Linked DNA regions of Homo sapiens: region 2 is linked to region 1. Evidence: fine-mapped expression QTL. A gene starts in region 1. The other region holds a variant in brackets. All regions are shown on one strand. Distances are from middle to middle.

Region 1 (2,902 bases):
AGGCAACTGGGTACAAATTCCAGGTTTATCACTTAACTGGTAAACTTGACCAAGTCTAAGCTTCATTTGTTTAACAAGAATAACTATTGGCTTCATTGGGAGGTTATAACCATTAAATACTAAGTTGAGCTATATGAACCTGCTGTTTCTGGAGGCAAAAACAGTCTAACATCATGGGGAGTGGGGGGAATCTACCAAAATGGTAAGGATTCCTTTGTGCTTTTGATTTTTGAAAACTTCAGCCCTAAATTCTTCCTTTTCACCTCTCTTGCCCAAGGCATAGTGCCACCCAACGGTCTGCGTGGCCCTGGGAGCTCGGAGGTTGCACACTGTTGACCTACCCTATTGAAGCCAGTAAGTTAGTCAAGGGACAGCCTCATGAGATTTGGGAGTTCTACAAGGATCTGGAGTTTCTTTCCAGCCAGTCACAAGCACATCCCTTGGGGGCTAGAGAAGTCAAGAGCCCTGACACATAGCCTACCACACACAGACTCAGAGTGCACTTTCACCCTCCTTTTCAACGCCTATTTGCCTCACTGTACAATGAGTAGTGACATTGGCTCTATTTTTAAATGTGGAAACTGAGGCCTAGAGAGGGTCAGGTCCTGTCCAATGTCACAGGCACCAATTGGTGTTGGAAAGAAGGTGGGGTTTGGCGTCAGATGGATCAGCGCAAGCACTGCCTCTAGATGTGTCACCTTCACAAGGTTCTTTAACTTCTGGGGCCTGTTTCTTTTGCTAGAAAAGGTCGCTGATAACGCTTGTCCTCATATGACTCTTCAACCCAAGTCTGCTCTCTGGCAGCCCCACATGTGGGGAGACCCCCAAGGAGACACTGCGAGAAGCACAGAGTGCGGCGCGCCAGGACTCAAACCGTGGGCACCCGACCGACGCACACGCGCAGCCCCACGACAGTATCAGTATTTAATTTCCACTAGAGACAGAACTAAGCCTAACCATCACCAGGCTCAAGCCGCCTACCCCAAAACCGAGAACGGAACTGCCCGGTCCCCCCGAAAAGAAGGGCGGAACATTTCGGCCAAGTCCTCAGACTACCGAACCGGAGAGCTCCGAAAGGGGACTACCTGCGCCTGCGCACCGCCATCTTGTTAAAAGAGCCCGCCTCTCCCTCGGCCGGTCACTCTTTCGCCACGGGCGGGGTTGCACCATCCGGCAGGGCGGGGCCCGGCCATGGCGACCGCGGAGCCCAGCGGGCGCGCGTTGCGGTTGTCTACCCCGGGACCCCGGCCCAGCGGGGCTCGGGACCGCGCGCCGGGAGCTGCGGGGCCACCCTCCGGGCAGATCGGTAATAGAGCCCTCCGTCTGGGGGAGCGCACCCCCGCGGCCGTGGAAAAGCGGGGGCCATACATGGTGACGCGCGCACCCTCCATTCAAGCCAAGCTGCGTGAGTGTGGCCCGATGGTCGGGGGAGGTTTCTCCCTGGGCGGGCGGCCGCGTCCCCAGGGCGGGTTCCGGAGCTCCGCTGGGCCTCGGCCCCGGAGGGAAGGGGTTAGCTGCAGCCTGCTCTCGCCCCTCAAAATCCGTTCGGAAAGAGCGGCCTCCCAGCCTTCGGGAGACGCGGCGGAGTGGGGAAGACCCGGCTGACCCGGGTCCTTTAACTTCCAGAGAAGCACCGGGACCTGGCCAAGGCCGTTCTGCGGAGAAAAGGCATGCTGGGGGCCTCGCCGAACCGCCCAGACTCTTCAGGGAAAAGGTCTCAGCAGGCGCCACCTCCTCTGTGCCAGCAGCTTTAGAGAAGGCTTTAATCCCCAGGACGGAGGCAGGGTGCTCTGGTTTAAGGCCGAGCTAGCGATTCCCCTGATGCAACCTGTCAGGTTCACTATCTTTAAAATGGGAAGAGGAACAATCTCTCTTTTCCTTTAAGGATGTGATAGGATCAGATAAAGGGCTTCGGAATAAGGGAGTTCTGTGAGTGCACAGGCTCATTCACTATCATTCTCCTCCTCTGTTAGGGAGGAGAATGGTGGCTGGAGTCCCCAGCAATGAGGACGAAGAGCAGTGTGGGAATGGCTAGACCTGTTTTTGTTTGTTTGTTTTTAACAGAATAGTAAACTCGGAGCTGCATAGAACCTTATTCAGTGCCTCCTTTTACAGATGAGGGTTGAAACTCGGAGAAGTGAAGGTTAACCCTAACCTTTTACCCAAAGACTTGCAGTTTTTGTGTCCTCTGATTAAATAAGTGGGGAGAGGGTGCTTTTCCTAGATCAGGCAAGGGGAGGTGTGCTTTTTTCCAAGACCTATGGGAGGAGTAGAATACAGGCCGGGCGTGGTGGCTCACGACTGTAATTCCAGCACTTTGGGAAGCCGAGGCGGGTGGATCACTTGAAGTCAGGAGTTCGAGACCAGCCTGGCCAACATGGTGAAAGCCCGTCTCTATTAAAAATACAAAATTAGCTGGGCACGCCTGTAGTCCCAGCTACTCAAGAGGCTGAGGCAGGAAAATCACTTGAGCATGGTAGGCGGAGATTGCAGTGAGCCGAGATCGCGCCACTGCACTGCAGCCTGGGTGACAGGGCCAGACTCTGTCTCCAAAAAAAGAAAAAAAGAATGAGAACATACACATTCTGAGGCACTGTAGCCAGGTACATGGAGCTGCAGGCAGTGGTGGCTGTGACCAGGGAGAAGGCAAGTCAGTAGTGCAGTCAATTCTTTCTCCTTCAGGGCGAGGACTCTGCCTATCCCTGTGAAATGCCTATGCTTTCATCTATGTTTGGTCTCTTCTCCCCCGTCTCCCCTCAGGTCAGTGAAGTTTAACAAGGGCTATACTGCTCTTAGCCAGAGTCCAGATGAAAACCTGGTGTCCCTCGACTCTGACAGGTGAGTGCTCCCCTTGGAAATACCCCCTTGGGAAGCAACTTGGCTGGGACTGAAGATCGCCTGA
Region 2 (2,902 bases), 130 kb before region 1:
AAGTAAAGTAATTTTTTTTAAAACGATCTAAACTCAGTGGCTCACGCCTGTAATCCCAGCACTTTGGGAGACTGAGGCAGGCAGATTGCTTGAGGCCAGGAGTTCAAGACCAGCCTGGGCAACGTGGTGAAACCACATCTCTAATACAAAAAAATTAGCCAGCATCGTGGCACACACCTATAGTCCCAGCTACTCTGGAGGCCAAGGTGGGAGGATCAGTTGAGCCCAGGAAGTCGAGGCTGCAGTGAGCCAAGATCATGCCACTGCACTCCAGCCTGGGTGACAAAGTGAGACCTTGTCAAGGAATAGAAGAGAAGAGAACGGCTGGGCATGGTGTCTCACGCCTGTAATCCCACTTTGGGAGGCTAAGGTGGGCAGATCACCTGAGGTGGGGAGGTCGAGATCAGCCTGACCAACAAGGAGAAACCCCATCTCTACTAAAAATACAAAATTAGCCGGGTGTGGTGGCGCATGCCTGTAATCCCAGCTACTCGGGAGGCTGAGGCAGGAGAATCGCTTGAACCTGGGAGGTGGAGGTTGCAGTGAGCTGAGATCGCACCATTGCACTCCAGCCTGGGCAACAAGAGTGAAACTCCATCTCAAAAAAAAAAAAACAAAGAAAGAAAAGAAGTAAATTCTCAAGAACAAAAAGAAGAGGAACCAACAGCAGTTAAGACGTGCCAATGCGCTTTCAGAAGATGGAAGCGAAAGGAAGCACTAGCAGAGCAGATCCTACAAGATAAGATTAGATTAGATGAGAAAAGAAAATATCCAAAGCCTACACAGTAACTGAGACACAAGCCAATTAGAGCCCAGGAGCCTAGGACTTGAGGCAGTGAGTACCACAAAGGTGAGCATGAGGCAGATAGCTGAATACAGGAGGACTTCCTGACCTGTAGAAGGAACAGCTAAAGTCCCCCCAGGTCTTCTTCCCACCCAAGGCAGCCAAACATACTACCCTTGCAGAGTTAGCACAACAGAGGTCAAAGGAGTCCTGGAGCAGAAGTGAGTATCTACAGACCAAACAGAGACCCAAGCCTGCTTCCCCTACTTGACCCTAAGAACGCAAGGTCAACCAGGCAGGAGACTACTGATAGGGTCCTTCTGGAAAAAACAAATAACCCTGGCAGTAGGGAGATGTGGTAGGGAAGGAAACCTTCAGATATGGAATTCAGAGGTCCACCAACAAAACATTTCAATACCAGATGAGTACCAAGTCCCTGGCAGTGAAGACAGAGTTTCCAATCAACTTTTGGCACCCAAATAAGAACAGCCAAGGAGTATCAGATATCTGAGGAGA[G/C]TCCTCTAGCAAGAAAGAGATTACACAAACAAACAGAAAATAGAAACCCAGAGACAATAGAGGGAGAAGAAAACTTAAAGATGAGAGACTACACCCAAGAAACAAGAACATAACACTTTTTAAAATGAGTATTCAAGGAACAAAAAAGAACTCTTAGAAATTAACATTATAAACAGTGAAATAAAAAATTCAACACAAGTCTAAAAGAAATCTTCCAGAAAGGAGAAAAAAAAAGATAAAGAAACGGATAATAGTAGAAAAAAGATGAGAAAATTGAATCAATTCAGTAGGTTAAAAAATCTGACGATTAAAGAGTTCCAGAGAGAACAGAAAAATAGGAGAAAATTACAAAAAAAAAATTAAATTAAATTTCCCAGAAGTGACGAACCCACAGGTGAGAGCCATTTACTCTGCCTCCAGGGGTCGGAGAAGGCAACCCCACTGTTAGGTTCATGAAGAAATTAGAGCGTCATGTCTATTGGTGCAGCCTGAGCCCACAGCAGCTCTTCTGGTGGCCACATCCCTCTGCTGATGTATGGAGTTTGCAATCAGCAAAAACTCAAAAAAATTATTCTCATTCATGCTGCTACTAAGCCACAAGCGCCAGGCTGTATCTGAGCAGTTATTTTTCTGGTCCCAAATGCTGTCCCTCACATGTCCCTGGTAAACTTCCCCTCACCAGAGTTGGTCTGCTGTTTGCTCAGCCTACAGAGAGCTCCTGAGAGCTCAATCCTGTTGCTCCTCCTCTCAGCCAGCACCACCATCAGTAGCCCCCAGAGACACTAATCCAAATTATGAACAGAACAAAGTCAAGGGCAGAGGCCACCCACAATGTCCACGGGCGTGGGTGTGGCAGCAGAGCAAGGGGTGAGAAAGAACCAAGAAGAAACTCTTTCCAAGTTGGATCTTTCACTGGCTATAACATGCTGACAACATCCCCAGGTGGTCTAGGGAGAGGTCCTAGGATTCCATCAAAGGCCTCATCTAAATCGAAAAATACTTTGTCTACTATCCAAAACATAAACTAAAATCGATATGCCTTGTTCCTAGTGATCCCAATCTAGCTTTTCTTAGCACTTACAAGCCTCATCTGTAGCAATTTGTGGAGCTCACCTCCTTCACCTTTTTGATAAATGGATACTAGCCATCTCCTGCCCCTGGCCCCTTTGACGTTTCCCACACTTCCTGTAGGTCACCAACCACAGTACCCTAGCACCCCAGGAGAGAACTTGCCCAGGACAGGAGATGAATCACCCAGCCTCGGTTCAGGTCCCTCCTACCACCACAAGCTCAAAAGAGAAGATGAACAAAATGAGATCAAAGAATCCCCCCATTTCTTTGTTAAAAACAACAACAACAACAACAACAGAGTCTCACTTTGTCATCTAGGCTGGAGTGCAGCGGCGCAATCTCGGCTCACTGCAACCTCCCAGGTTCAAGGAATTCTCCTGCCTCAGCCTCCCAAGTAGCTGGGATTACAGGCATGCGCCACCATGCCCAGCTAATTTTTGAATTTTTACTAGAGACAGGATTTCACCATGTTGGCCAGGCTGGTCTCGAACTCCTGAGCTAGGGCAATCCACATGCCTCTGCCTCCCAAAG

Evidence for each region. PIP is the estimated chance that this variant, and not a neighbour inherited with it, causes the effect.
Region 2: its variant is the best candidate, but not a certain one, in a credible set for the expression of FAM219B in whole blood (TOPMed, PIP 0.60).

The regions. Positions count from the first base shown.
Region 1 is chr15:74,905,090-74,907,991 of GRCh38, reverse strand. It overlaps FAM219B (family with sequence similarity 219 member B), which reads left to right and starts at 1,141. Exons shown (of 5, transcript NM_020447.5): 1 at 1,141-1,405; 2 at 1,627-1,714; 3 at 2,761-2,838. The coding sequence starts at 1,192. RefSeq lists enhancers at 799-1,078, 920-1,724, 1,725-2,531 and a silencer at 1,139-1,438.
Region 2 is chr15:75,037,501-75,040,402 of GRCh38, reverse strand. All of the region lies in intron 2 of PPCDC (phosphopantothenoylcysteine decarboxylase), which reads right to left. Among named protein-coding and RNA genes, the nearest start is that of PPCDC, 15 kb to the right of the region's middle. RefSeq lists a silencer at 2,890-2,902. The variant G/C (reference allele first, on the strand shown) is at 1,301.